Regions from separate parts of the Homo sapiens genome. Here regions 1, 3 and 4 are each reported to be linked to region 2. Evidence: microRNA targets listed by miRTarBase, many of them from high-throughput screens and not tested one by one. Region 2 holds a microRNA gene; each other region holds the end of a gene's coding sequence.

Region 1 (7,313 bases), not on the chromosome of region 2:
CTCAGGGCTCTGGTTCCCCTAATGGAGGGGCGTTGAGAGGAGGGTGGGGGCAGAGAGGATGTGTCCAAATCACTTGGGGAGCTTTTTTTTTTCTTAAAAAACAAAAAACAAAAAACACCACAGGGTCTTGCTTTGTTGCCCAGGCTGGAGTGCAGTGAGTGCAGTCACAGGTCACTGCATCCTCAAACCCAGCCTTCAAGCCATTCTCCCACCTCAGTCTCCTGAGTAGCTGGAACAACAGGCACACACCACCATGCTCAGCTAATTTTATTTTTTGTAGATACGGGGTCTCACTGTGTTGCCCAGGCTGGTCTCAAACTCCTGGCCTCAAGCAATCCTCCTGCCTCGGCCTCCCCCAGGTGCTGGGATTAACAGGCATGAGCCACTGTGCCCAGCCAGGAGCATTTTTTGAATCCTTCCCTCCTCCCTATTTGGAGCTCTCCTCAGAGCAGCATTTTCCAAAACTGCCTGGTGATACCCATTTGGGACCACTGTTTCACATACAGATTCGAGCCCACCTCAGACATATGCTAGAAATGTCTGTGTGTGAGACAAGCGTTCCGAAGGATTCTTCTCATGTGTCACGTTTGAGAAACTCTGCTCTAGGGTTGTTTTCTCCTGCAGTTTTGCCCCAGACCTACTTTAGCCTATTGACTTTTTAGTGATGAAACTTGGGAATTGACATTTTAACATCAAAATTGCATGCCAGGCGTGGTGGCTCACACTATAATCCTAGCACTCTGGGAGGCTGAGGCGGGTGGATCACCTGAGGTCAGGAGTTCAAGACCAGCCTGGCCAACATGCCAAAACTCTGTGTCTACTAAAAATACAAAAATTAGCCTGGTGTGGTGGCAGGCGCCTGTAGTCCCAGTAACTTGGGAGGCTGAGGCAGAAGGATCCCTTGAACCCGGGAGGCGGAGCTTGCAGTGAGCCGAGATTGCACCACAGAACTCCAGCCTGGGTGACGGTGACGGAGCAAGACTCTGTCTCAAAAAAAAAAAAAAAAAAACGATTGCAAGTTTACTTTTTGTTTTTGAGATGGAGTCTCGCTCTGTCACCCAGGCTGGAGTGCAGTGGCACAATCTCGGCTCACTGCAAGCTCCGCCTCCCGGGTTCACACCTTTCTCCTGCCTCAGCCTCCTGAGTAGCTGGGACTACAGGCACCTGCCAACACGCTCAGCCAATTTTTTGTGTTTCTAGTAGAGACGGGGTTTCACCACCTTAGCCAGGATGGTCTCGAATCTCTGACCTCGTGATCTGCCCACCTCGGCCTCCCAAAGTGCTGGGATTACAGGCGTGAGCCACCGCGCCCGGCCTGCAAGTTGATTTTTAAGTGTACATTCATCTTTGAGAACCAATACACTAGGATAAAGGAGATTTTTTTAAAACTTCCAAGTTACTTGGCTCTTGTTGATAAATTCCCTGCATAGTTTTCCATGTGTCGCTTGCTTGAAGGAACGGCTGCCAGAGCCCCATATGAAAGTGACCCAGTGCCTTTGCCCAGTGTATAGACATGAGAAAAGGGTTCCAGGGGGTTTCCTCTCAGAGGGCTTATAGATCGGAGGTCAGGCAGCCGGCAGAGACAAAGCTCTAGTTCTTACCTAGGATTCTTTACTTGTTTGTTTTTTGAGACAGATTCTTTAAGGCTTGAAGCTACCTTTCTTCCCCGCAGCAATCTGCAACAAAGGGAGGCCCTGGAAATTAGGGATTCTTTTCTTCTTGGGATCCTGGCTCCTAATCTTGTCCTCATAACCATTTCCTCCATAAGTAATCTCAGGCATTCAGCCAGAGGATTTTTAAGCCTACAGTGCCAAGCCCACTTTAATACACTTTTCAGTGCGACTGCATTTCAACTGTAGAAGTCTCAGTACTTTTCACGTGTGAAGTTAGGAGTTATGGTGTCCTATATGTTCTAGGCTAGAAGGATTGTAAGTGTTCTCTCTTCTAGCTGGGGTAGGCCTGAGGGGGCAGGGGGCAAGTGGGTTTGGGGTGAAGGAAGGAGGCACAGCAGGGCCAGGGCCTTTTTAAATAACAGATAGTGTGTATCATGGCTTCCACCAAACCTCCTTTTCTTCAGATGACCTGAACATTGGCGGAATTATTGGGGGGGTTCTGGTTGTCCTTGCTGTACTGGCCCTGATCACGTTGGGCATCTGCTGTGCATACAGACGTGGCTACTTCATCAACAATAAACAGGATGGAGAAAGGTGAGCCTGCCTTATGTGAAAAAAGGGAAGTTCAAGCTGGCAATAATATAACAACCCTGTTGCTAAACTGCTCTCTTCTCCTCATAGTTACAAGAACCCAGGGAAACCAGATGGAGTTAACTACATCCGCACTGACGAGGAGGTAATCATTTAGTAAACCTGGAAACCTAGGTGTACCCAGCAGGGAAAACAACATTCCCCCTTGGAAACCACACGGGTCTCCTGGGAAGATTTCTGAGTGATTGTGCAGCTCCTGAGCTCCTCAGCCCCTTCACAGTAACACACACACACACACACACACACACACACACACACACACTAATGGGATTTGTGCTTTGCAAGCGCTAGTGATGGTACTTTTTAAGAATGATTATTCCATCTGTATTTAGCCCATGTTAGACTTACTCCGTGTTTTTCCCTGCTTGCCACCAGGCCCCTTGATGGCTCTAACTGTGTGTTGGCTTTGCAGGGCGACTTCAGACACAAGTCATCGTTTGTGATCTGAGACCCGCGGTGTGGCTGAGAGCGCACAGAGCGCACGTGCACATACCTCTGCTAGAAACTCCTGTCAAGGCAGCGAGAGCTGATGCACTCGGACAGAGCTAGACACTCATTCAGAAGCTTTTCGTTTTGGCCAAAGTTGACCACTACTCTTCTTACTCTAACAAGCCACATGAATAGAAGAATTTTCCTCAAGATGGACCCGGTAAATATAACCACAAGGAAGCGAAACTGGGTGCGTTCACTGAGTTGGGTTCCTAATCTGTTTCTGGCCTGATTCCCGCATGAGTATTAGGGTGATCTTAAAGAGTTTGCTCACGTAAACGCCCGTGCTGGGCCCTGTGAAGCCAGCATGTTCACCACTGGTCGTTCAGCAGCCACGACAGCACCATGTGAGATGGCGAGGTGGCTGGACAGCACCAGCAGCGCATCCCGGCGGGAACCCAGAAAAGGCTTCTTACACAGCAGCCTTACTTCATCGGCCCACAGACACCACCGCAGTTTCTTCTTAAAGGCTCTGCTGATCGGTGTTGCAGTGTCCATTGTGGAGAAGCTTTTTGGATCAGCATTTTGTAAAAACAACCAAAATCAGGAAGGTAAATTGGTTGCTGGAAGAGGGATCTTGCCTGAGGAACCCTGCTTGTCCAACAGGGTGTCAGGATTTAAGGAAAACCTTCGTCTTAGGCTAAGTCTGAAATGGTACTGAAATATGCTTTTCTATGGGTCTTGTTTATTTTATAAAATTTTACATCTAAATTTTTGCTAAGGATGTATTTTGATTATTGAAAAGAAAATTTCTATTTAAACTGTAAATATATTGTCATACAATGTTAAATAACCTATTTTTTTAAAAAAGTTCAACTTAAGGTAGAAGTTCCAAGCTACTAGTGTTAAATTGGAAAATATCAATAATTAAGAGTATTTTACCCAAGGAATCCTCTCATGGAAGTTTACTGTGATGTTCCTTTTCTCACACAAGTTTTAGCCTTTTTCACAAGGGAACTCATACTGTCTACACATCAGACCATAGTTGCTTAGGAAACCTTTAAAAATTCCAGTTAAGCAATGTTGAAATCAGTTTGCATCTCTTCAAAAGAAACCTCTCAGGTTAGCTTTGAACTGCCTCTTCCTGAGATGACTAGGACAGTCTGTACCCAGAGGCCACCCAGAAGCCCTCAGATGTACATACACAGATGCCAGTCAGCTCCTGGGGTTGCGCCAGGCGCCCCCGCTCTAGCTCACTGTTGCCTCGCTGTCTGCCAGGAGGCCCTGCCATCCTTGGGCCCTGGCAGTGGCTGTGTCCCAGTGAGCTTTACTCACGTGGCCCTTGCTTCATCCAGCACAGCTCTCAGGTGGGCACTGCAGGGACACTGGTGTCTTCCATGTAGCGTCCCAGCTTTGGGCTCCTGTAACAGACCTCTTTTTGGTTATGGATGGCTCACAAAATAGGGCCCCCAATGCTATTTTTTTTTTTTAAGTTTGTTTAATTATTTGTTAAGATTGTCTAAGGCCAAAGGCAATTGCGAAATCAAGTCTGTCAAGTACAATAACATTTTTAAAAGAAAATGGATCCCACTGTTCCTCTTTGCCACAGAGAAAGCACCCAGACGCCACAGGCTCTGTCGCATTTCAAAACAAACCATGATGGAGTGGCGGCCAGTCCAGCCTTTTAAAGAACGTCAGGTGGAGCAGCCAGGTGAAAGGCCTGGCGGGGAGGAAAGTGAAACGCCTGAATCAAAAGCAGTTTTCTAATTTTGACTTTAAATTTTTCATCCGCCGGAGACACTGCTCCCATTTGTGGGGGGACATTAGCAACATCACTCAGAAGCCTGTGTTCTTCAAGAGCAGGTGTTCTCAGCCTCACATGCCCTGCCGTGCTGGACTCAGGACTGAAGTGCTGTAAAGCAAGGAGCTGCTGAGAAGGAGCACTCCACTGTGTGCCTGGAGAATGGCTCTCACTACTCACCTTGTCTTTCAGCTTCCAGTGTCTTGGGTTTTTTATACTTTGACAGCTTTTTTTTAATTGCATACATGAGACTGTGTTGACTTTTTTTAGTTATGTGAAACACTTTGCCGCAGGCCGCCTGGCAGAGGCAGGAAATGCTCCAGCAGTGGCTCAGTGCTCCCTGGTGTCTGCTGCATGGCATCCTGGATGCTTAGCATGCAAGTTCCCTCCATCATTGCCACCTTGGTAGAGAGGGATGGCTCCCCACCCTCAGCGTTGGGGATTCACGCTCCAGCCTCCTTCTTGGTTGTCATAGTGATAGGGTAGCCTTATTGCCCCCTCTTCTTATACCCTAAAACCTTCTACACTAGTGCCATGGGAACCAGGTCTGAAAAAGTAGAGAGAAGTGAAAGTAGAGTCTGGGAAGTAGCTGCCTATAACTGAGACTAGACGGAAAAGGAATACTCGTGTATTTTAAGATATGAATGTGACTCAAGACTCGAGGCCGATACGAGGCTGTGATTCTGCCTTTGGATGGATGTTGCTGTACACAGATGCTACAGACTTGTACTAACACACCGTAATTTGGCATTTGTTTAACCTCATTTATAAAAGCTTCAAAAAAACCCAAACATTGCTTCATTCTTTGTTATTTGCTCTTACGTTGGGTTTGTCTCTTCTTCCTAGCATTTCAGTGGTTAGGCATGCACACTAAAAATGCTATCAATCACCCATCCACCAGGGAAGTCAGTGCTGGGCAGGAGGTCAGCCTGTGTGCTCAAGAGCAGTGCTGCGCCTCTCCGCCACCGAGCCCACCTGTGTTGCGGTTCCCACTTGGGATGGCAGTGGGCAGATCTCAGTGGCATCCCATCCCCCAAACCAACCAACGCACATCATCACTTTGTACTTTTGCTTTTGTAATACTGGGATTAAAAAACAAACCAACTGCATTTCTTTCTGGATATTGTTGAACAAAAATAGCATTCAGTTTACCCACTAGTGCTAACAGAAGAGACTCAAGCTGTTCCCCCATCATGGGAGCAGCCCTTAACAGAGGGCTGCACAAATCGGCAGTGCTGCTCTGGGGAAGGCTGCAAAGCCATTTTTTCCCAAGAAGGGATGCTGTTCATGTCTGTTAGGGAAAGCACACCGCCTCTGCCTGGGCACAGATGAACTGCCCTTCAAGACAATCATCTTTTTTCTAATAGGGAAGATTTGGTTTCATTCCTCTAACAAACAAACATGCTTTATGTAAAATTAAAATGATTACCAATAAGAGCTCTGTTCTAAAAACAGAAAAATCCTATTGACTACTGGAAGGCTGTATTTATGCTAAACCTTTATTACTTTTAGAAAGCTGTACACTTTTTTAAAAAATTTGCACTTATAAATAATAGAAAAAATATTAGAATCAAAATTTCGTCATTACAGATGGGAAAATATGTACTATAAGGAATTCAAGTTAACAGAGGCTTGATTTATATAAAAGAAAGCTGCAGTTTTAAAGTTGTGTTCCTTAAAGACCAGATTATAGCTTATCTGAATGGGCTTGACACTTTCAAATGGAATAAAGTTACAATATTAAACAGATTAGGGTAAGAAAATCTAAATCTGGCACATCTCTATTATTTGACAGTGTTTAACCAAATACATCATACAGAATAGAAGGTGAGTGCCAGGCCCCTGAGGAGGAGCTCTCGTGTTCCACAGCAAAGCGCTGCCCAAGGACTGCGGGAAGTGATCCAGCTGCCTTCACACGGAGGACACGAGACTGCTTCCTCAAGGGCTCCTGCCTGCCTGGACACTGGTGGGAGGCGCTGTTTAGTTGGCTGTTTTCAGAGGGGTCTTTCGGAGGGACCTCCTGCTGCAGGCTGGAGTGTCTTTATTCCTGGCGGGAGACCGCACATTCCACTGCTGAGGCTGTGGGGGCCTAGGGAAAGGACATGTGCAGTCATTCTGGAACTCAGAAAAACCCTGACAGAAACATCCACCTCAAAAGGAACACTGCTAAACTTACGGTTTATCAGGCAGTGATAAACATAAGATGTCATTTCCTTGACTCCGGCCTTCAATTTTCTCTAAAAGGGAGTCAAACAAACACATTCAGCTTTCCCAGAACCTCAAAGGCAGTGCATCTATCAGCCCAGAAGGACACCAAGAACTTGCCTTTGGCTGACGACGGAGTCCGTGGTGTCCCGATGTAACTGACCCCTGCTCCAAACGTGACATCACTGATGCTCTCTGCATAAAGAGGAGACACCACTGAGTGAAAGCCGCGTGGTCTATCGGAGGTCTCTGTTCTAGTTGTCCGTGGGACGTAGGCAGGGTGTCCACATCAGTGTCCCAGCGGCGGCCCTCAGACCTCCACTGGACCCTGTCCCAGGGCCTGGCAGTGTTGAGGGCCCCTCCTGGGGATGCTCCTTTCCGTCTCTCTGACCCCCTTCTCTGACCCGCAGCCCTCAGGCACTCGGCTGGCCCCTGGGCCTCACTGTTCACGCCTCTGGCTTCCCTCCCGCCGTCTTCCATCATTGCCCCTGTCCCGGTGACCGCCCTGTCCCACTTACTACACCTCCTACTGTGGCTCACCCAGATTCCCTGAGGACACTTCAACTCCTTGCCTCTGCACCTCCACGCGTGCCTGCTGGTTTCCAGCCAGTGAC
Region 2 (7,882 bases):
AACTGAGGCACAGGTCCAGAAATGTGCCCAAGATATGGAGCTAGTAAGGAGAAGGCCTGGGATTCAGACTCAGTCAGTGTTACCTCCTGAGTGGCCTGGACAGGACAGGCTGGCCGAGGCACACCTGTGCAGCCCAGCAAAGCCTCCTGTAGAGATGGCAGCTTAATCTGGGTGTTTACCTCACATCTGCCATTGAATGATTCAATTCATTCAGCCTCTGTTAGCAATGGTGCAATCAAATGACTCCAGGAATTCTGAAATAACGTATTGACCTGCAGGGACCAGAAATTGCTATCAGGCACTGGGAACCTCTCTCAGGCAATGGTCACACTAGGCAAAGGCTTCTGCTACCCCTGGAATCATCTCTCTGCAGGGAGTTCTAGTGCCGTTGTTCCCATCTGGCAGATGTGCAACATGGCTGAAAAAGGGATGCCTGTGGCTTTGGGTGGTCTGCACAATTGTCCTCAAGCTCTAGTGTACACACAAACTGTGTAGGGTGCCTATTACGTATGCAGGTGTACTGTAAACCTACCAGATCAGAAGGACTCTGGGGAAACCCACGGAATCTGCATTTCAACACAGCCAGATGTAAGACATCCCGACCCATTTCTACATTCTTCCTAGTTGACATGGCACCTCAAAGTTGGAGATACATGCACAAAGTTCAGTGCCAAAGGGGAGAATGGAAAAGTCCACTCCCACAATCTCCAGATGATTTTTGCTCACAACACTGGGCCCCTTTGGAAAAAAAAAACCCAGTTTGCAAAAGTTCCTGGAGAGATGGCAGGAGATATATCATAAGGAATTTCCCTGTACACATGGATGCCCCAAAAGCAGCATACTTATCTCAAAGAGCAATCTGACATGGGAAAGGAGGCTCATGCAGAGAGGGCATAAAAGCCTCCTGTGGGCTTCCACCATCTAGAGGCAGCTGCCACTGAAGTGTGGGTGCTGCAGCTGGTGCCAAGAAGCAGCAGTGCCAAGGCATCTAGATCTGCCTATTTTTTGCCTCCTCCCCACCCCCTGACAAAGCTCTGCTTACATTATTTTCCACTGGCTGACCATGCCTGGGGCACTCTGGCTGCAAAGAGCTATTTTAAGAACTCCCATCTTGAGTTCATACGAGGATCTCGTGTTTATTGACAAAATGATCCTACAGAAGTCTTGTTTCACAACTTGGAAAATGCCACAGTTTCATCACTGTTCAGAGCCCACCACACACAGACCCGGCTCTGACCCCTGGTCCAGATACAAAGGTACAGCATTCCCTCACTTCACTCCCTCACTCTCACACTTGACTTCCTTAGTGCCTGCCTTTAGCTTGGCCCCCCGTTGTCTGTTTCTGAGGGAAAAGGGGTGGGGTAGAGAACATCATGAAGGTTCCCTGGGGTAACTGGACCGCTCTCTGGCGTGTGTGCCGAGTTTACCATACAAGAAGAAAGATGCTTCAGAGTTGCATTAATCTGGGGCCTGCTATGGTGCTATTCAGTGGTCTGACGCTTTCGAAACATAGACCTTTTCCTGCAGAGCGACAGACCCTGCTACCCCGTGCTACCTGCAGATAACAAACCCCCACAATAGTGTGGGCTTCTCTGTACAGTCCCAAGAATGGTTGCGTCTGTTTCCAACACCTAGTTAAAGGAACGGCACTTAGGTCATCAGTCTTTGTTAAATGAAAAAGTATGTTTGCTGAAACTAGGGTTTCTCAATGTTGGCACCTTGACATTTGGGGTGGGACCATTCTCCACTGTGGGGGCTGTGCTGTGCACTGTAGGACGTTCAGCAGCAGCCCTGGTCTCCGCCCACTCACTAGATACCAGCAGCACTTCCCCCAGCCTGGACAATCACAGTGCCAAATGTCCCCTGGGGCACAAAGTGGACCAAGCGAGAACCACTAGCTTAAATAAATGCCCATCTGTGTCATTTTTTAAACTGAATTATTACCTTTGAGACGTTGGAATATCATACAAATATTGTATTCTCATTATAGAGAATTTGGAAGAATACATAAAAATACAAAGAAGAAAACCAAAAATGCCCATAATTTTATCCCTTTGTATCAGCCTGTGTTAACATTTAGACGGTATCCTTCAGTCATTATTTCTGTGCTTATATTAAAAATGTGACCACATTTTTACAAAAGTAACTATGTAGATATATATAATTTAAATAATATACCATAAATACAAATTTTCAATGCAAAACCTCACAGTTCACACACAGAAATGTGTTGGGTGTGACTTGAGCTTAGGCAGCTGTGGCAGCAGGGGCAATGCTGCACCTGGTGCCATTGTCCTTACTTTGTATGTCCCTCAAGGGCTGGACATATTCCAGTCCTCGGAGGGCCTTATCTCCTAGGGATTTTCTTTCTTTGGGACACAGGTGTAACTTACTAAAAGTGTGACTCTTATAAGTCACTCCCCTCCCATCGTACCTTGTCTATAGAATGAGGACAGTAATACCCATCTCCTAGCTCATCAACTTGACCTCACAGTTGTGAAGATCAAGTGAGGTGCTGCTAATCAAAATGCCTGGGAAGGTTAGAGGTCATATAACCACCTCGGGAGCCTTGTGTGTAAATCGCTCAGCAGCTCTTGCTGGAGTTCAAGGAGATGACAGTTCACTCTTCTTTCCCCATCTGCCTCAGCTGCCCCACGGATGAAACCGTCCTCGTGCATGAGAATGGGAGAGATCACAGGGCAACCTTCCAATTCAATGCTTTCCGGTTCCAGAACATCCCCAAACTCTCCAAGGTGTGGTTACACTGTGAGACGTTCATCTGCGACAGTGAGAAACTCTCCTGCCCAGTGGTGAGCTGCCTCTCTCCAGAAGGACAATGTTACCTAAAGGGTGCCAGTATTGGAGGAGCTGGAGTTTGAGTGGGGAGATCATAACCAGGCCAGGGCAGCTGTGTGCTGAGGACATCTGGAGGAAATGGCACTGAGTATAAGGGCAGATGCTCGTGAGGGCAGATGCTCAGGGCCCTATCTGCCCTGCCTCCAACAACCCACATGGTCTGGCATGTGTCGCCTAACCTGCTGGGACCTGCTTTCTCATCCTTAAGCAAAGTGTGTTAAGTAATGATGGCCCTTCCCTCATCAGAGGGCAGTGTAGGTAAATGAAAGTGATAACAGACTTGGAAATACTTGGAAGAAGTGAAAAGGGCAAGGGAAATTCAAGGTCTAGGTGGCAGGGACAGGCCGTGGAAATAACTCAAAAGGTGGGTGTTTTTAGTCTTGACTGAACAGCCCGAGGGTTCACCTCTGTGACTTCAGAGAGATGCTGCAGAAATTCCCGACACTGGATCATGGCTGATTTGACCACGTGAGAGGAAGGCCTGGGCAGGCTGTGCTTTAACAAGCCAGCAGTCATGCCGGTGCTCACTCAAGCCTGAGAACCACCACTTAGACACTTAGACATGCCAAATCTCAAACTGTTCTCCTTTCTGGTCTCTTTCAACTGGAGACCTCGGTGTTTCCAAAGAGGCTGCTATCCACATAGCCTATAGTAACCAACAAAAATAAGGTCATAATCTCTATTGCTGTTGTTTCATTTGGCCAGAAAATGGTTCTTTATGAGCACAAACAGCAAAAGGGAAAGAAACCAGAGAGTGCAGAGCCAGGGAGAGGAGGGGAGAGACACTGTACAGTTGATCAAAGGATAAGTATCAATGCCATATTTTTAAAAAGAAAGAAAAGAAAATGAACCAGAATACAATTGCAAGTGTCCACTTCTCTAATTATTGTGGTGAGAGTGGTAAGTAGAAGCCTTATCAAAGGAAATGGGATCAATCCCTTCCACACTCAATGACCTCTTCCAGAAGGATTCCCTCTGGCTTGAAGAGTTAACAAAGTAAAGCTTTCTCTTTGTATTCAAGTTGGAGAAGGGATGAACAGTGTGTCTTCTGGGTTATTTTTTAAAAAGGTAACTCATCTCTGTTGACTGGGGAATTGTGACTCCACCCCATTTGTGACCTTTTTAAAATATCTTTTCTTTCTCTTTTCTCCCCTTTGCTCACGCATCATCCCACCTTCCCCGCTTCTCTCCTGTCTGCCTCTCTGGGTCTTCAGACCTGCGATAAACGGAAGCGCCTCCTGCGAGACCAGACCGGGGGAGTCCTGGTCGTGGAGCTCTCCCTGCGGAGTAAGCGTCTCTGTTTTCCTCTGTTTTCCAAACGGTTGAGTTCACGCTGGGCTGCGTCCACAGGCACAGCCGGTTTGAGCATTTTTACTGAATTGCCAAACCAGTCGTGCCTGTGGGCACAACCTTCACCTGCTCCTGGAGTCTTCCAGCCAGGGGTGGGGAACAGCTCAAGCCAAACGAAGGAGTTGAGGTTTGTTATCTACTCTGAAAGTTCTAACTGCACCCTAAATTCAAATACCCCCAAAGAATCAGGAAGTGCTGAGCTTCCAAACAGAGCATGCAGTGAACAATAATAATAGAAAATGAGATGTCATGGGGCCGGGCTCGGTGGCTCACGCCTGTAATCCCAGCACTTTGGGAGGCCGAGGTGGGCAGATCACTTGAGGTCAGGAGTTTGAGACCAGCCTGACCAACATGGTGAAACCCCACCTCTACTAAAAATACAAAATTACCTGGGCTTGGTGGGGCACGCCTGTAATCCCAACTACTCGGGAGGCTAAGGCAGGAGAATCACTTGAATCTGGGAGGCAGAGGTTGCAGTGAGCTGAGATCGCGCCATTGTACTCCAGCCTGGGCAACAAGAGCGAAACTCCGTCTCAAAAAAAAAAAAAAGAAAGAAAGAAAAAGAAGAAAGAAAGAGAGACAGACAGACAGACAGAAAGAAATAAAGAAAGAAAGAAAGAAAGAAAGAAAGAAAGAAAGAAAGAAAGAAAGAAAAGAAAGAAAGAAAGAAAGAAAGAAAGAAAGAAAGAAAGAGAAAGAAAAAAGAAAAGAAAAGAAAGAAGGAAGGAAGGAAGGAAGGAAAAATGAGATGTCATGAGAATGTCATGTGCAAGTCAAAAAACCTTTACTGAGTATCCAGCACTGCCTGGCCTGGCAGGGCACTAGGATTTCAGAAATAAATGTGACCCAAGCAGGCCCTGTCCTCAAGGGATTTACTGTCTAGCAAGGAGAGAGATGTTAGACACTAAGGGAAAGAGAAATTACTGTTAAGGAGGGTGACAGTGGGCTGGTGCCATGGTTGCACAGTTGATCATCACTAATGTGAAAATCCAAAATCCGAATGCTCCCAAATCTGAAACTTTTTGAGCACCCACATGATGCTCAAAGGTCATGCTCACAGGAAATGCTCATTGTAGCATTTTAGATTTCAGATTCCAGGTTTTCCAGTTAGGGATGCTCAACTAGTATAATGCAAAGATTCCAAAATCCAAAAAAAAATCTGAAATCTGAAACACTTCTGGTCCCAAGCATTTTGGATAAGGGATATTCATCCTGAATGGAGCAAAGGGATTCAACCTAGTACAGGGCTTGCAGAAGAGCTCTGCTGACAATCTCCAAGTGAGACCTGAAGGATAGTGTGACATGAAGGGTGGGCAAAACCTGTGGGAAGGCGGGAAGCTGTAGCGGCTCTATCTTAGAGGACAGTCACCAAGCTATGGCCAAGGGCCAAGGCCCAGGTGCCACCTGGTTTTGTGGCCTGGGAATTAAGAACAGTTTTCACGTTTTTATGTGGTTCAAAAAAAGAATCAAAACAACAATATTTCGTGACATGTAGAAATTACGTGAAATTCAGGGCCAGGCATGGTGGCTCATGCCTCTAATTCCAGCACTTTGGGAGGCCAAGGCGGGCAGATCACCTGAGGTCAGGAGTTCGAGACCAGCCTGGCCCTGTCCCTACTAGAATACAAAAATTATCCGGGAGTGGTGGTGCACACTTGTAGTCCCAGTACTTGGGAGGCTGAGGCCAGAGAATCACTTGAACCTGGGAGGCAGAGGTTGCAGTGAGCAGAGATCACGCTACTACACTCTAGCCTGGGCAACAAGAGTGAAACTCTGTCTCAAAAAAAAAAAAAAAATTATATGAAATTCAAATTTCAGTGCCTTTAAAGAAAGTTTTATTAGAACACAGCAACACTCGTTCATGTAGATATTGTCTACAGCAGTGCACTGCAACTACAGGTGGATTTGTGGTAGCAGAGATGGGATGGCCTGCAAAGCTGACAAAATGTACTATTTACTTTTTTCTTTTCAGAAAGCTTACCAACCCCTGCTTTGGAGAGAAAGCGTTGTGAGATGAAACTTTGTAAACCCCCAGTATAAACTGTCTGAAAGGCAATGGAGCACCTGATGGTTTAATCAGGGGAGGATTGTGGTCAGGTTTTGTGTTTTATTTATTTATTTATATTTATTTTTTTGAGACCGTGTCGCCCAGGTTGGAGTGCAATGACGTGATCTCAGCTTCAAGCAATTCTCCTGACTCAGCCTCCTGAGTAGCTGGGATTACAGGCACGTGCCACCACATCTGGTTCATTTTTGTATTTTTGGTAGAGACAGGGTTTCATCATGTTGCCCAAGCTGGTTTCGAGCTCCCAACCTCAAGTGACCCGCCCACCTGGGCCTCCCAAAGTGCTGGGATTACAAGTGTGAGCCGCAGCCCCCAGCCAGGTTTTGTGTTGTAGAAACATCACTCTGAGACTTCTCCTTTCCATGATCTTTTCTTAAACTTTCTGCATTCTCTCTTTACTCACTACAGGCAGGGGATTTTCCAGTCTCTATAGCTTCTCAGGTAAGGAAAAGAGACACTTCTGGGATTTCGTGGGGCTATGCTGTTAAAAGGCAGAGAGTGTTTTAAGAGAAGCTTAACTTTGGCCCCGGCAAAACTTTTAAGGATTGAAAATTATACTTTAAAGCACACCTGAGTGGCGCAGAGGGGGCGAGATCAAGAGGTCTCCCTCTGACCAGCCCCTGAACTCTGAAGAGAGGGAGGAACCGAAGGTAAATCGGATGAAGCAGAACTGGACCTCACTTCCCCAAGTCTTAGTAAAGCCATCCCCAGATGGCTTCCCTTGGATTCCAACATTTACAGAACAAGATTTTCAGTGATCTGTTCATTCAACAAATATTTGAATTCTTGTTATGGCTCTGTCTTTTATTAACTGAGTGACCTTGGGCAATGACCTCACCCCTCCTCCATACCCTAGTTTCCTCTGTGAAATTGGGCTAATAATTGCCCCTATCTACATGGCTGTGGTATAGATATTTAATTACAGCTAAGGGCACTGAACAATGCCCAGCAAACAGCAAACACCCAGTCAGGGTCAGCCATGATTATGATGACTGTACTGGGAACTGGTCTTGTGGCTACTGCCGTGAACAAGACAGACAAGGCCCCTTCCCTTGCCAATATGTGTAGAGTATTTGGGGTTCAATGGGGGACGTGATTTAGAGAGCAGCCAGGGAAGCCCCTTAGAGGAAGAAACATTTCAGCTAAGACCCAAGATCTCACCTGAATGATAAGAAGGAAGCAACTACATGAGGAGATGGGGTAAGACAGTTCACTTATTAATAATCTCACAGACAGATTTTGCTCTCATCATTACAGGAGAATCATGTAAATCAACTTTTAAAATTCCAATCCTAGATTCTCATCGTTTTTAAGTTCTACACTGAAAGCCCTAGAGTACCATGCACCATCACTGATTTCTATTTGTCAGAGGTCCACAACCTAGGTTTATCTGTCAGGTTCTTTGTACTGATAAATGTGAGCTACAGAATCCCCAAGGGATGAACAAAATCGACTTTGTCTAAAATGTGTGGAATTTTATGAAGACCCCTGAGTTAACTCTTCTGTTGAGTTGGCTTTACCCTTGTAGAACTGTCTCTGAGTGCCATCTCCCTCCCCTTCTGGTCCACAGATGTTCTCCACCACCTCATCATGATGTTGGGGATTTGTGCC
Region 3 (7,882 bases), not on the chromosome of region 2:
GTGACTTTACTCACTTGCATGAAAAGCAAGGGAGTGAAGAGCTACCAAAGGAGGCCAAGGGAAGAAAGGACACAGAGAAGGACCAGGTGCCAGAGCCGGAGGGGCAGCTGGAGGAGCCGACACTGGAGGTGGTGGAACAAGTGAGACCAAGAAGCTGGTGGGGAGTGCAGAGGTGTGGGAGTGGGGGTCTTACTGTGTGTCCGGGCAGTGGGGGCAGCATGAGTAGTGTGGCTGTGGGTTCAGGGGATGTGCACTTGATTGTCAGCTCCACCTCCTTGGGAGATTGTGTGACAGCACAGGGGCTTCTCTCACAGGCTTCTCCCTACTCCATGGATGACAGGGACCCTCGGAAGTTCTTCATGTCAGGTGAGAGCTGGGGGGTCAGGATCAGAGGCGTGGGGAGGCCCCAGGATGCCTTGGCTCAGTGTCCCCATCCTCAGGCTTCACTGGCTATGTGCCCTGCGCCCGCTTCCTCTTCGGCTCCAGCTTTCCTGTGCTCACCAACCAGGCACTGCAGGAATTTGGGCAGAAGCACTCACCAGGCAGTGCCCAGGACCCCAAACATCTCCCCCCACTTCCCAGAACATACCCTCAGAACCTGGGTCTTTTACCTAACTATGGGGGCTACGTGCCAGGTGAGAAGAGCCCCCGGGGAGGCTTTGGGGACTGGAATGTTTGTTTGTATGGGTATGGGGTGGGTTGGGTGGTTTGTGGGGGTTGAAACTAATAGATATGGGAGGGCTCAGATCATGTGGTTCAGCTTTATTATCAGGCAGAAAAGGAAACCGAGGTAGCTACCCACAGTGGGGAATTAGGGCCAGATTTTAGAGGGCTGTTTGGAGGTCTAGCCAACTGGCTGAGAATTAAATGGCTTTGCCATGCCACTTGCTACATGTGACAGACTCTCTTGGCCACACAGGGTATAAGTTCCAGTTTGGCCACACATTTGGCCATCTCACCCATGATGCTCTGGGCCTCAGCACCTTCCAGAAGCAGCTCTTGGCTTAGGCCACTGGACATCAAGTTCCCTTCCCTTTTCATCCTATCCCAGCCATCCTTTTGGAAGGGAGAGAGGTGGGTGGGAGGGTGGGAGGGTGGGGGAACACAAAGAGAAAATGGTTTGGAGGCTGAGCACCTTTTTTATTAATAGGTATAATAAATAAATAAATAAATACATAAACAGACGCCTGGGCTCCTCCTCCCTCTTCTGATGACCAGGCACTGGCCACAGCCTATTTACAGCTGGGGGGCTTAGGGATCTGGCCCCAATACTGTTACCCATCCTCATCTCCACCTGGCCTAGGGAACCCTGTAGATGGCTTTCTGGGCCACCCGCCTCCAGGGGGACTTGCTTGTCTTCACCCATGGAAGGGTTGGCCCAGACGGGCCAGGGGAATCCTGGCAGCCCAGTGCTGTGTCCCATCCCTCTCCTGGGTGGAGGTCTGGACAAGGTCACTGGGACAGTTAAGGGGGCGTAATTAATACTGAGCACAGGGAGCAGGTGCCAGCACAGGGATACGTGGCCCCAGCTCTCAGTCTACTCTGCAGCCAAGCCAATGGCTTGGGAAGGGCTCTCGGGCTCTGAGTCTGGGGGTTATGAGGGTCCCTGAGGCCACCAGCATGCACAGGGCCTCAGTTTTGGCTGCTTCCAGGGGTTGGACTTGGAGTTGGGGTCAATGTCACGTAGGCCAGGGGCACCAGGCCAGAGTCGGGGCCACGGCTGCAGCGCAGCCAGTCTCCTCCAGCTCGCCCCAGCACTCGTAGGATGTCTCCTTTGTGGAAGCTCAGCTGTCCAGGGCCGGTGGCCAGGTGGTGGCACAGTGCCTGCACCTCACTGGGGAAACAGCACATGGAGGTCAGAGAAACCCCCTCAAAAGCCCCCCGCCCCCCTCAGCCCTTCCGTTTCCCCAGGCTTACCACGGAGGACTGGAGGGCAGGGCTGGGGAGTGTGGCTCCTGCAGGCTCTCCTTGGGCTCTGGCTCCCGGCGGGAACCCACTGTCTGCGCCACTAGTTGGAACATGGACTTGTCCAGGCTCAGCCAGTCCGAGGGGAGCCTAGGGACAGCAGCTGGACTCAGGCTCTGCCCAGGATGGGCTCTGCCCGTGCCCTGGCTTACAGCAGGCTCCCTACTCCCTCCATCCCTACCATGGGCAGGCTCTCACCTATTTGTGGGCCGGGCCTCCCGCTGGGCTTTTCGGGAGCCAAAGAGGTGTCCCCACTTGATGCCTCCAGGTGAAGGCTCTGAGGCCCCTTCCTCATTTTCTGCTGGCGAGGCAGCGGGCCCTTCCCTCTCCCGACTGCGCCTCAGCTCGGCCAGCACAGAGTCAGGGGGGCTCCCCATCCAGAAGGGCCAGCCCCTTTCCCGGCCCAGGGCCTCCTCAGAGGCAGGGCAGGCCTCAGCCCCCTCCACTACTCCCTCTCGGGGTGGTGGAGCCTGGGGAGGTCCCCCACCTCCTGCCCCTTTCTTTTTCTCGCTGCTGCTGTTGCTGCTACCACGAGGGAACCTGGAACCCTCAATGGAGCCATCGATGTAGACCTGGGAGCTCTGCATGAGCTGGTACCACCAGCCGGCCTGCCCACCTCGGGCCCACCTGGCACGCCCTGAGCCCCCGGCTGCCTCTGCCACCTCTTCTGTCTCCTCTTCTTCCTCTTCCTCTTCTCCACCTTCTGAGGCACCCACACCCTTCACCCGCTCCCCTTGGGCTGCCCTGTCCACGTCTCCAGGGCCCTCCTGGCCCCGGGCCCGGGCCAGCTGCAGCGTGGAGTGGGCAGACAGCAGCAGGTCCTGGGACACCCGCAGCAGTTCCTTGTGCTGCCGCTGCTGCTGCCCACTTTGCAGCAGCCGGTGCTGGAACAGCAAGTCGAGGCTGAAGGGCAGCAGGGCCAGGGGCTGTAGCAGCAGCAGCAGCTCTTCAAAGAGGCCGGGACACACGGTATGAGCTGCACTCAGGAAGCCCCAGGGCTGGTAGTGGGTCTGGATGATGTCTAGGGGAAAAGAGAGAGGGACTGATCCACACAGAGAACCAGAGCCTGGCCCAAGTGGGACTTTGAAAGACAGTCTGGGCAGAGCTGCTGCAGACAGCGGTGCAGGCTGTGCACTAGTCAACTTGCATGTACTAAGTATAAACGCTGCTGCCCACAGCTGTGCAGTGCCTAAACTCTCCAACCCCAGGCGGTGGCCCTGAGTTTAGAGGAGTGAGATGCAGGGATTCCTGGCCACCCTAACTCCCAGATTGCTAGAGTATCCTGCTGGCTCCAAGGTTTTTTGTTTTGTTTTTTGAGACTGAGTCTCACTCTGTTGCCCAAGCTGGAGTGCAGTGGCATGATCTCGGCTCACTGCAACCTCTGCCTCTCAGGTTCAAGCAATTCTCGTGCCTCAGCCTCCCGAGTAGCTGGGACTACAGGCATGCGCCACCACAGCCGGCTAATTTTTGAATTTTTAGTAGAGACGGGGTTTCACCATGTTGCCCAGGCTAGTCTCAAACTCTTGACCTCAGGTGACCCACGTGCCTCGGCCTCCCAAAGTGCTGGGATTACAGGCATGAGCCACCATGCCTGGCCCAAGGTTTTAACTCAAGCAGAGGCTGGGGAAGGCCTTGGGTGGAAGCCTGAGGCTCTGAGGATGAACGCTTGTGTGGTCCCCCTCCCCACCTCCAGCAATGAAAAGACAGCTCTTCCTTCCTCTTTTGTGCCTCTGAATTCTGACCCATTGAGTTTGACCTGCAGGGTTCTAGGCATTACCTTCGTGGTTATAGAGGTGATTAAACCAGAACTCCAGGGACCGGATGCTGTAGGGAGACAGGTGAAGAGAGTTGAGTCTTGTGTGAATACAGCCAGATAAGGAGACAGATCCAGGGGGTCAGGCACAGGAAGAATAGGTGAACACGCCCTTCCATGGCACGATTCATTTCACCTAATTCCAGAAAGTCAGTGGGGATGTGTGGAGGGAGATGGACATGTGATTTACAAGCCAATTGTTTCCTCCTGGAGTGGAGTCAGCCTGCAGTAGACCTAAGAAATCAAGGCAGCTACTGTGTGAAAGTACAGGCAGCTCAGGGCCAAAGGGAATGGCCTGGGCCCATACCTGAGAAAGCATGTTACTAGGATGTGGGTCCCAAGGTGGACTTAGGGTCAAGCAGGATTTGGAAGTAGTGCTGGAATGGAGAGGATCAGGGTTTACAAGGTCCAGAGAAATTAAGAAACCCAACTAATTTCCAAATAAGCCAGATTACAGATTTGTAAAAGCAGACCACGTTGGTGACCAGTGACAGAGTCATGGGCACAGTGGGGAGGCAGTGACCTACTGAGAGGCCATAGCGGGCTGAGGGGACCCTCCAGATCCACCCTTTCTGTCTGTCCAGGGCGTTGTTTCCTTGGTGCAGGCAGAGCCCGGGGGTGGGGGGCAGGGCAAGTTGTTTAGGGGATCTTGCTGCTCTGTGCACTCACTTGAGCAGGCCGAGGATGAAGGCGTTGAAGCGCATGGTATGACTGGTGAGCTCTGGGAATTGGCTGACTTTGTTGTAGAGGCCATGCAGGACCTTGGTGGATGGGCCTGGGAGGAAGCCAGGGTTGCAGGTCACATGACCAATTTCTGGAGCCCTAAATTCAGCCCTGGGTCCCCGTCTTGGCACCCAGCACCTACCTAGCTGTGTGGAAGCCTCAACCACACTCCATGGCATGTTCTTACGCTGCCCGATGATGACGTCCAGTACAAAGGCCTTGAGCCCATCCTCCAGCACGGCGCGGACGGCAGGGCACAAGTACTTCAGAACCAGGTGGCCCACATTGGGGCTCACAGAACTGTTTCCCAGCTTTGCCTGTAGGTGTGGTAGGGAAGTGCAGGAAACCCCCTCAGGCCTGACTGTGGTCCTCTCGTAGCAGGCCCTCATGGTTCCCCTCTTGCCGTCCCCATTCCTAAGTACCCAACCCTGGGCTCTAAATGCAAGACAGCAAGGGAAGGTGGTAGCGCGGGACAGGTGAGGGCTTGCAGGCAGAGCTCAGCTCTCCACATTTCCTTGCCTACCTTCACCCCGGGATCCCGGCTTGTGCCAAAATGAGCCACAATGAGGTCCACAGCGATGTTAACAGCTTTTACCAGCCCTGCAGGGAAGAATGTGATGTGACAGGTCCCTGAGCAAGTCCTTAACCAACTCAGCTGGGGCTGAAACCTCAGGTTTCCTCAGGGAAAGGGCTCCCACACTTACTCCGTCTCCACATCTGCACATGGGTCTTATCAAAACATTCAGGCCTGGCCCTTTTCTGGTTCTGCCCAGTTCTTAAGCTCTTCCTGTCTTTACTTCCCAGCCTGGAGCTACCTCAGTGATGCCACTGTCAAGCCTCTCAATGTCCTTACCTCTCAGCCCTTATTCCAATCCTGGGTCAGGCCAACTATCGGTTTTCTCCACTCTGAGAAACCGGGCCACTGACCTGAAGAAAACCCAAGTCCCTCACCCCAGTGCCAGTGCCAGACAAGGGCGGTTCTTTGACACATGGCTTGTCAGCACTCTCTGCCATACCCTCAAGTTGCCATGTGAAATCGACACCCCTCCTCTCAAGCCCTTGGTTCTGCTTCAGAGAACAGAGTTCCCTAGTTATAAACTCCTTTAACTTCCCTCTACCTCCAAAATCCATAACAATCTCATATGTACACCCCTCACTCCCCTGCCCACTTGCATCCCCTTCGCGTCCTGGAGGAAGGTGGCCGTTTCCCTTCTTGCCCGGGTTCTTTCTCCCTGAGCTCTGATTCTCCCCTTCTGCCTTTGCAAGGAACTTCAGCTCTCTCTTCACAGGCTCATCTTCAGCCCACAATTATGCTCAGTTCTCTCCATCTCCCTAAAAATGTTCTTAGTTCAGTGGTCACTTATTTGCTAAATAGTGTGGGTCTTGTCAATCTTCATCTTACTAGATGTCACCAACACTCTTACCCAAGCTGCTGGGCCCTCTAGTACCTTCACCCGCCCCCTCCAAGAGCACTGAGGCATTTTTTGATGACATGGAAGCCTCCTCATGAGACTTTGCTCACTGCAGGAAGGGACCGGAGCGTGACTCTGAAAGCCTCTGATGAATGACCCTTGCTCACTCACATGCACTCATGATACACAGCACACAGCTTCCTCCTCTGGCCCCAGAGCCTGTGTGCTCCAACACCTTCCCAGCACCTGGAGATTTGTTTGTGGTTTTCTTTTGAAAAGGAGTTTTCAGTTTTGTTGCCCAGGCTGGAGTGCAATGGTGTGATCTTGGCTCACTGCAACCTCCACCTCCTGGGTTCAAGTAATTCTCCTGCCTCAGCCTCCCGAGTAGCTGGGATTACACGCGCCCACCACAACACCCAGCTAATTTTTTTTTGTGTTTTTAGTAGAGATGGGGTTTCACCATGTTGGCCAGGCTGGCCTCGAACTCCTGACCTCATGATCCACCTGCCTTGGCCTCCCAAAGTGCTGGGATTACAGGCGTGAGCCACTGGGCCCAGCCAGCACTTAGAGGTTTCAGACTGGCTAGGTAGTAGGGCAAGTGTGAGGAGGTAGTGACAGCAGAGTCCCTGGCCTGAGCTGGGGGTTGTATGCACCTTTTTTCTGAAGCAGGTCAATGGAAATGGCCTCTGAGCTGCCATCTGGGGACAGACAAAACTCAGCTGGAGGCTTCTCCGTCAAGGAAAAGGGGTCCTGGAAGTCAGGGCAGGTCAGTGGTAACGGCTTCACTGCTTGGCCTGGAAAGAAGAGAAAAATCAATCCTGAGCAACTCTCAGTGCAGGAGTTCCAGGCCAGTTCAGTGCCTCGTACCGTCTGAGACACGTTCCTTTGGGACTGACCCCTTCTCTAGCCCTTTCCAGCCATGGCAGAGCCTGCCCCGGGTGTACTGGGGACCCTGCTCACACACCATTCAGCCGGCAGTTCAGATGGCTGGCAGCACTGAGGGAGCCAGGGAACTCAAAGATAGGGTTTCTTCGGGCCAGCCGAGCTTCTTGTGATCTTCGGTCTAGGCTCCCTGACAAACCAGGTGGCCCTAGTGGGTTCTTCCTCCTGTATTCCCGCCACTTGAGGGCTTGAGGGGATAGGTGGTTGGCTGGAAGCAGAACAGATTAGCAGAAAGACAAGAGTTGGCAGGAGACAGCGAGACAGAGTTTCACATCCACCCAGTGGGCCCATATGAAACACTAGATTATCTGTGGATATTATCTACAGATGCTGAGGGAGGGATGCAGACATCCTAACCTCTGGCCCCAGGTGAGAGTGTAAGCAACCACTCAAAGGGGAGGTGGTGGAAGTGCTTGCGTGAGGTGGCGGGTTGGGTAGGGAGATGCTGGAGCTCGTACCATTACTGGGCCTGGTGGCCATGCTGCCCTCACCACCTCCCCGGGCCAGGCTCTCTGCTCGGCTGAGGCCAGATCGCCAGGAGCCCAGAGGCGGCAAGCTTCCTGTTCCATGGAGCCGGTACTCAGTCAAGGTCAGTATCTTCTGATCCTCCTTCTGCGGCTGCTGGGAGGTGGCAGGCCGGACAGCAGAAGGACAGGAGTGGCTCCATGGGGGCAGGCTTTCTGTGGCTGTGGGCTGCTCTGGGGGAGGGGAGCACGAAGTGGAGGCAGAAGAGTCAGTGCTGGGCCCAAAGGGGCCAACACTCCGGATGGGGGAGTAGCTGCCCAGGGGCGATGGCCGAGAGGTCTCTGGCTCAGACCCAGCTTTCCTGGCACCTCTGCCAGTGGCTCGGGGAGTGGATGCCTGCGGTTCCCCTGAGGGAGCTGGGACTGAGACTTGAGCAGCAGGGGCAGCCAGTGGGGCAGGCTGCTGTGTACGGCTGCAGCCTGAGAGGCTGTAGAGCTGGGAAAGGCTGTGGAGGGCCCGGGCCTTGGCCAGCTGCTTGGGGAAGTGGTGCTGGAACACGAAG
Region 4 (7,882 bases), not on the chromosome of region 2:
GCTCATTCTCTTTTCATAAAGCTGCCTCTACCCACCCATATCATCCCTGAGGATGATAGAATCCTTGTGATCCACATTAGAAAACCCTTGGTTTTAACAGCTTTACAAAGCAAAGTTCAGGGACTTTCCTATGCTATTAGTCATCAATTCCCATTGTATTTGCCTTTATGTGTTTCTTACTTCCAGTCCCTTCATTTTAACGGTGCAGGCTAGATTCTTGTATCTTGGATCATTGAAGTAGCCCCAAATCTATTGACAGTCACCCTAGAACCTACTTTCACAAGAATAGTAGCTGCTGAAATACGTGATGGTTGTCTGAGGTCTTTAATTTGTCACCTTTGTCCTAAGGGCCTAGTTTTCCGTGTTCTCCATAATGTAGTTCTGTTCTGGCTGCTTCTCTTTTGTGACTTTGTCCCTGTTGTCCTTCCCTTTCTAAGTGAAGCTGTCTCAGTAAACCTCTACATGCTTCAAGTTCAACATTACATCCCATTTCATCCATATGCTCACTCCAGTCTAAGTAAATCTCTAGTTTGAGTTTTATTGTAACTAAAATGTATTAGCCATCCATTTGGGAAATTAGAGAGGAAAATTCCTTTTCCCTAATAATAGGTATCAAATAATAGGTATCAAAAAATAGGTATCAAAAGCTATTGCTGTCATTCAGAAAACAATGTCTAGATTAGAAATGTATCAGAGAAAAAATCAGCAGAAGAAGGGTGGAAAGAAAAGCAGAATAGTAAACTGTGAAAATGGTCTATAGGTGAATCTGGTATTCCTTCCCAGAACTGGTTTCCTGGTTAAGAATCCCTGTGCTAAACCCACAACATTTATCAAACATTTATCATGTTGAACTGCTTTTGCTTTGTCTTTTAGTCTTCTATGGATCATAAGCCCCAAAAGGGTGAGGACATTATCTACTGTTTGTTTATATGTACCAAGTATAGTGATATACACACAGTTGGTGCTGAAGAAATTCTCATTAATTCCAAGTAGAGTGCAGATTTGTACACAGGACTGTCTCCCATACAAGAGCAAGCCAACCTGATAATTCATTTCCACTTGTCTTAGTTGAGTTTTAAAGTTACCTTCCATCATCATAGAAATTATTTGATGCATCCTCAGGTTCTGATAGTTGCTGGCTTCCTTGGCTGTGAAGCCACTACATGAACAGAACTTCATGCTGAATTTTTAAATACAGTGCTTAGGGATTCACAAATACTTAAGTGAGCCCAGAATGTGAACAGATTGAACAAATGTTCAGTGTAAAGTTGTCCACAAATGAGAAAATTATTAGGAGCTAAAATGTTTAAAGGAAGGGGGGAGGGTAATTGTATGAGGGAATAAAACAGTTGTACAAATCATCAAAAAAAAAAAAACAATGTAAAATATTTTTGTAAGTGTCGAAGTATCTTTAGGTAGATTGTTGGTCAAACTTCATATGGTTGTTCTTTAGGACACTGTTTATAAGTCGGTGTTGTAAATCTGATGTGAATTTTTGTTTCTTTTTTCTTAGATTTTTGCCTTTATGACGACAGCTTGTTATGGTTGCAGTTTGGGTCTGGCTTTACGAAGATGGCGACCGTAACACTCCTTAGAAACTGGCAGTCGTATGTTAGTTTCACTTGTCTACTTTATATGTCTGATCAATTTGGATACCATTTTGTCCAGATGCAAAAACATTCCAAAAGTAATGTGTTTAGTAGAGAGAGACTCTAAGCTCAAGTTCTGGTTTATTTCATGGATGGAATGTTAATTTTATTATGATATTAAAGAAATGGCCTTTTATTTTACATCTCTCCCCTTTTTCCCTTTCCCCCTTTATTTTCCTCCTTTTCTTTCTGAAAGTTTCCTTTTATGTCCATAAAATACAAATATATTGTTCATAAAAAATTAGTATCCCTTTTGTTTGGTTGCTGAGTCACCTGAACCTTAATTTTAATTGGTAATTACAGCCCCTAAAAAAAACACATTTCAAATAGGCTTCCCACTAAACTCTATATTTTAGTGTAAACCAGGAATTGGCACACTTTTTTTAGAATGGGCCAGATGGTAAATATTTATGCTTCACGGTCCATACAGTCTCTGTCACAACTATTCAGTTCTGCTAGTATAGCGTGAAAGCAGCTATACACAATACAGAAATGAATGAGTGTGGTTATGTTCTAATAAAACTTATTTATAAAAACAAGGGGAGGCTGGGTTTAGCCTGTGGGCCATAGTTTGTCAACCACTGGTGTAAAACCTTAGTTATATATGATCTGCATTTTCTTGAACTGATCATTGAAAACTTATAAACCTAACAGAAAAGCCACATAATATTTAGTGTCATTATGCAATAATCACATTGCCTTTGTGTTAATAGTCAAATACTTACCTTTGGAGAATACTTACCTTTGGAGGAATGTATAAAATTTCTCAGGCAGAGTCCTGGATATAGGAAAAAGTAATTTATGAAGTAAACTTCAGTTGCTTAATCAAACTAATGATAGTCTAACAACTGAGCAAGATCCTCATCTGAGAGTGCTTAAAATGGGATCCCCAGAGACCATTAACCAATACTGGAACTGGTATCTAGCTACTGATGTCTTACTTTGAGTTTATTTATGCTTCAGAATACAGTTGTTTGCCCTGTGCATGAATATACCCATATTTGTGTGTGGATATGTGAAGCTTTTCCAAATAGAGCTCTCAGAAGAATTAAGTTTTTACTTCTAATTATTTTGCATTACTTTGAGTTAAATTTGAATAGAGTATTAAATATAAAGTTGTAGATTCTTATGTGTTTTTGTATTAGCCCAGACATCTGTAATGTTTTTGCACTGGTGACAGACAAAATCTGTTTTAAAATCATATCCAGCACAAAAACTATTTCTGGCTGAATAGCACAGAAAAGTATTTTAACCTACCTGTAGAGATCCTCGTCATGGAAAGGTGCCAAACTGTTTTGAATGGAAGGACAAGTAAGAGTGAGGCCACAGTTCCCACCACACGAGGGCTTTTGTATTGTTCTACTTTTTCAGCCCTTTACTTTCTGGCTGAAGCATCCCCTTGGAGTGCCATGTATAAGTTGGGCTATTAGAGTTCATGGAACATAGAACAACCATGAATGAGTGGCATGATCCGTGCTTAATGATCAAGTGTTACTTATCTAATAATCCTCTAGAAAGAACCCTGTTAGATCTTGGTTTGTGATAAAAATATAAAGACAGAAGACATGAGGAAAAACAAAAGGTTTGAGGAAATCAGGCATATGACTTTATACTTAACATCAGATCTTTTCTATAATATCCTACTACTTTGGTTTTCCTAGCTCCATACCACACACCTAAACCTGTATTATGAATTACATATTACAAAGTCATAAATGTGCCATATGGATATACAGTACATTCTAGTTGGAATCGTTTACTCTGCTAGAATTTAGGTGTGAGATTTTTTGTTTCCCAGGTATAGCAGGCTTATGTTTGGTGGCATTAAATTGGTTTCTTTAAAATGCTTTGGTGGCACTTTTGTAAACAGATTGCTTCTAGATTGTTACAAACCAAGCCTAAGACACATCTGTGAATACTTAGATTTGTAGCTTAATCACATTCTAGACTTGTGAGTTGAATGACAAAGCAGTTGAACAAAAATTATGGCATTTAAGAATTTAACATGTCTTAGCTGTAAAAATGAGAAAGTGTTGGTTGGTTTTAAAATCTGGTAACTCCATGATGAAAAGAAATTTATTTTATACGTGTTATGTCTCTAATAAAGTATTCATTTGATAATCTTTGTGGTCATCTTTTACACCATTCACTTTGAAATTCAGTTAAAGGTTTGATATAAATTTGGCAGAGCTTATAGAATTATAATGTATAAAAAGTTCTGTTTTAAACATTTCTGTGTAAAAGTCTCTCAGGAATTGTCAGTAAGTCTTTTTTCTTTGATGAAGGTGAAAGAGGCAAGTCTTTGGAAGTAACGTTGCAAAGGAAGTTTAAATGAGAATTCTGTTTTGCCGAGTGTGATGACTTATGCCAGTATTCCCAATACTTTGGGAAGCCGAGGCAGAAGGATCACTTGACACTAGGAATTCAGGACCAACCTGGGCAATATAGCAAGACCTCATCTCTACAAAATAATTTAAAAATTAGCTGGGTGCATGTGGCACGTGCCTCTAGTCCCAGCTACTTGGGAAACTGAGGTGGGAGGATTGCTTTAGCCCAGGATGTTGAGGCTCCAACCTGGGTGACAGAGTGAGACCCTGTCTCACACACACACAAAAAAAACCACTATCCATGCTAAAAAGAATTGTTTTATTTAAAAAGCATTCATTTATACCATGTTTTATATGTTTCAGGCATTTTTTTCACATATTCATTTATTTCTCATCATAACAACCCTATGAGGTGTATACTCTTATCCCATTTTAAAGGCTTGGAGACTAAAAAACCTTAAGAAACACCCAGTGCTGCCTGCCTAGCAGGTGAGAAAGCTGGGACTTAAACCCCAACAGTCTGACTCCGAAGTGCAGACTCTTAATTTCTGTTTGCCTCAGTTCACCCAGATTTTATATCTATATCCAAAAATGTGATCTTTTCTTCACCCAGAGAAGTTTTAGCAGAATGTTTAACATCATAGTTATTGTAAGTGTCATATCTTAGAACATTTTTGTCATAACCAAGGACTCATGATTTTAGCTGTAAGAATTTAAGCCAAACCTGCATGATGGAGAAAAGGTTAGGCCACTTGCCTCTAGAACGGTCCCTGAGTGCTTGTCTACCTGAGTGTTTTTCCGCTTTGTCACTTCTGGCATGAACTATGGGGGCTTTGGTCTGCTGTATTACCTTACATTGAGTCAGCCTTTTCCCAAATTATCCAGCCTTCCAGGGATGTCTGGAACTGACTTCAGAAAGGTCTTCCAGTCTGAGAGATGCCATTCGATCTTGAGCATGGACTATGAATTTCCACCTCTGAATACTCTAGAATCTGGAACTCTGGATCACTGTCATGAAGGTTCTATCATTAACAACATGCCTGAAGTTTGTTAATTGGTGAATCAGTGTCTCAGGTGTCAGCTTAATGTATTCATCAGGCAGGGGTCCAGAGTATGGGGATAGCAATGATCTTTAACCTATCTATGCCTAGTGTTCCATTATTGGAACATTAAGCTTGTGGGAGTTATTTATATCCTACTGCTCAAGGTCATCGCCAAGGTCTGATTTTTCACAAAAAACACTTGCAACCTCTGGCAAAAATTGGTTATAATATGTTTAATGTTTTGAATGTCCAGCTTTGTAACAAAAAAGGACGTTAGTTATACTTTTATTAGGCTGTGCCCCTAGCAAAAGGACAATCCTAGTTCCTCTCTCTGGAGCACTTTTTTCTCAAGTTACCTACAGAGCTGGCTTTCTCACCCTCTTTGGGTCTTTGCTTAGTCATCACCTTTACAGTGAGGTCCTACCTCAGAACCACATTTAATCTTGAATCTCACACTAGCACTCCCTGTTCTCCTTTTCTACATTTTTCTCCATAGCTCTTAGGACATACTTTATGTATAGTGTATATGCATATAGCATTAATTTATTATATTTGTCCTCTTCTCCACTAGAATGGAAGGCTTGTGTTTTGTTAATTTTAGACAGCAGGTTTTAACAGTTGTCTCCATTTTTGAGCATACATAGTTTATGCATGTGGAATATATGAACTGGTGTCCGCCTATTTTAAGTATTTGGTTGGTTCAAAAGTAATTGTGGTTTTTGCTATTGAATGTAATGGCAAAAGCTGCAATTCCTTTTGCACCAACCTATTAGTAAAAGTTTAATTTTATGTTCACAAAATAGTTAAAATATTTCCTTTGTCACTCTGTGTATTATCTTGCATATTTCTTTAAGTACACATACTCCATTTTAGAGGCCATAGGAATAGAATATTGGCTTGGAGGGCATAAAACTGGACTATCTCCTTTGCTGTTTTGATGGATGTGTCTAACACAGGCTGGCAGCCATAAGCATTGAAATTGGTTTCTCAGTAAGACGATAGGTACTCCATTTCTTCAGAATGACTACATTGACTAAATCTCAAAAATTAACTCTTGGCCAAATATGCTTTCATAGAACAAACAAATTCTCAACAAAAAAAAAATGTGATATTATGTACTTTTCCAGTGTGGGATAACTAAGTTGACCAGACTTAGTCTTGTTTTTTATTTTAAATTTAATAGTTAGTTATACTTTCAATGTGAATTAGGGAATTATAACTTGCACATCAATTGCGTGATTTCATGGATATTATTCAGTATGAGAATAAGTATTGTGAAAAAATAGTCCATTTAACATTTGTGGGACCTGAGGTGAGCCACTTAATTTATTCAAGCCTAAGTTATCATCTACCAGTGATGATGATGCAAGTCTGGGAGAGGAGGTCCTTTGGAAAGAAGAAGCCAAGATGCAGTTCAAAGTACGAGATGTTTGTTGGAGATAATGCCTATAAAATATAAAGAGGAGAGAGAGCACAAGCAGGAAAAAAAATATTTCTGCCCCTGATATAGGTTTGACTCACATGAAAGGAGAAGTAAGATTAGGTAGGAAGAGCCTCAGACTGTGCTCATTCTGAGAAAGTCTCAACCAATTTAGCAGTGAGCTCCAACACCAAGACTGCCCATAGAGGAGGAGTCTCACACTAGCTGGAAACGATGAGCCCTGATACCAACACCATGTGCAGTCATTGCCTGTGGACTGCCCAGAATGAATGGCCTCAGCTCATTGGTGTGGACACTGAAGGAAGATCCTGAGGGTATCTGCAACTGGTGCTGTCAGATAACTGCACTCCCTGTGGATGGTTATCTTTTGGAGATCTAAATAGCACACTTCATAACTGCCACTTTTCACCCCTTGTACCAAATCAATCCACTTCTCCATGCATATCCTGGGAGCTACTCCTCAGTGGGCCTCTCATCCTGAGGGTAAGACTTTTAAAAAAGAAAGGTTAGTGGGTCAAACTCAGCCACATCACTGCAGTTGGTCTTGGGGCCACAACTGGTATTCATCTCTCTCTCCAACCATCCATTCTGAATTGTCTTAGCAGCTATCACCTACCTTTGCAGGTCTGGGTGAATTATCTGGTGGTGTGACCCACACACTCATTCTTGAAGGGTCTGAAACCAAGACAACAGTAACTTTTTCAGGTGGGGGTCACTGCACTTGTCCATCCACAGTCATAATTGGACAAGGAATTACCACAAAGGTGCCCATGTGGATCACCTGAGTTTCATACATATTCCTATTTCTATTGTGTAATAACAGCCCTACATACCTTTTTATCAGGATAAATTACCCCTGCAAAAAGGGCAACTCCTTCCTGCCCGCTTGGTGCTTAAAGACTCCAAAATGCCTCAACAGCAGCCACAGCTTGTAGTTCAATAAAACCCTTGCTCTGCCCCAGATAAGAATAAGCCTCCTTTGGAGATCAGAATGGTAATCAAGCAGAACCCCAAACTGTAAGGATGGGAAGCACAAAATCCATAGTGAGTCACTGGGAGTGATGGTAAATGAGGCCACTCCTGTTTTCATCTCTCTTTTCCCAGGCCGATTAGTTTTTCCTTTTGGGAACACAATACTCTATAGAAGTTTCAAATTCAAATTCAATGTGCATGTGGCATTCAGGAAAATGGCACCCCACTGTCATGGGTATTGCCTCTGTGCTGGTGCTTCAAATGTGCTTTTAGCAGGCTATTCCAACACTATCAGGCTGGTTGATCCTGGATCATGAATTATGTGATATGGTCAATGACCACAGTCATGGGGCTATCTCCTGGTTAGATGCTAAGTTGAGTGTGATTTCATGCTTCTGGAGCAAGCACTCCATAAGCCCACTGCACATGACTGTATATATTCTCACATCG

The links. The annotated mature microRNA hsa-miR-6715a-3p reads CCAAACCAGUCGUGCCUGUGG and lies in region 2 at 4,239-4,259, shown strand. An mRNA with a match to its seed (bases 2 to 7 or 8) in the 3' UTR can be bound and repressed. Matches are read on the target gene's strand: a 7mer-m8 pairs with bases 2 to 8, a 7mer-A1 pairs with bases 2 to 7 and ends in A, and an 8mer does both.
Region 1: the mRNA of NCAPD3 is a reported target of hsa-miR-6715a-3p. Seed matches in the 3' UTR shown: 7mer-m8 at 5,591-5,597, 7mer-m8 at 5,529-5,535 and 7mer-m8 at 4,344-4,350.
Region 3: miRTarBase lists CIMIP2B as a target of hsa-miR-6715a-3p. Seed matches in the 3' UTR shown: 7mer-m8 at 1,117-1,123.
Region 4: miRTarBase lists MAL2 as a target of hsa-miR-6715a-3p. Seed matches in the 3' UTR shown: 7mer-m8 at 3,183-3,189 and 7mer-A1 at 3,231-3,237.

What each region holds. Positions count from the first base shown.
Region 1 is chr11:134,146,470-134,153,782 of GRCh38, forward strand. It overlaps NCAPD3 (non-SMC condensin II complex subunit D3), which reads right to left. Exons shown (of 35, transcript NM_015261.3): 33 at 6,820-6,894; 34 at 6,671-6,731; 35 at 3,644-6,583. The coding sequence ends at 6,475. JAM3 (junctional adhesion molecule 3) reads left to right here. Exons shown (of 9, transcript NM_032801.5): 7 at 2,078-2,207; 8 at 2,295-2,349; 9 at 2,677-5,532. The coding sequence ends at 2,712. It overlaps SNORD153 (small nucleolar RNA, C/D box 153), which reads right to left and starts at 4,894; the gene lies at 4,819-4,894.
Region 2 is chr10:112,295,422-112,303,303 of GRCh38, forward strand. MIR6715A (microRNA 6715a) reads left to right here and starts at 4,191; the gene lies at 4,191-4,269. TECTB (tectorin beta) reads left to right here. Exons shown (of 11, transcript NM_058222.3): 8 at 2,648-2,810; 9 at 4,071-4,143; 10 at 6,680-6,712; 11 at 7,842-7,882. It overlaps MIR6715B (microRNA 6715b), which reads right to left and starts at 4,267; the gene lies at 4,191-4,267. RefSeq lists an enhancer at 6,950-7,244.
Region 3 is chr9:35,555,133-35,563,014 of GRCh38, reverse strand. It overlaps CIMIP2B (ciliary microtubule inner protein 2B), which reads left to right. Exons shown (of 6, transcript NM_001164310.3): 3 at 1-140; 4 at 315-366; 5 at 441-635; 6 at 920-1,184. The coding sequence ends at 1,008. RUSC2 (RUN and SH3 domain containing 2) reads right to left here. Exons shown (of 12, transcript NM_014806.5): 3 at 7,314-7,882; 4 at 6,878-7,063; 5 at 6,567-6,707; 6 at 5,025-5,101; 7 at 4,644-4,818; 8 at 4,448-4,553; 9 at 3,743-3,789; 10 at 2,164-2,986; 11 at 1,918-2,055; 12 at 1,120-1,834. The coding sequence ends at 1,633. Among named protein-coding and RNA genes, the nearest start is that of CIMIP2B, 4.8 kb to the left of the region's middle. RefSeq lists a silencer at 1,780-1,972.
Region 4 is chr8:119,241,904-119,249,785 of GRCh38, forward strand. MAL2 (mal, T cell differentiation protein 2) reads left to right here. Exons shown (of 4, transcript NM_052886.3): 4 at 1,514-3,770. The coding sequence ends at 1,585. MAL2-AS1 (MAL2 antisense RNA 1) reads right to left here and starts at 4,954. Exons shown (of 6, transcript NR_149114.1): 1 at 4,827-4,954; 2 at 2,907-2,939; 3 at 2,392-2,427.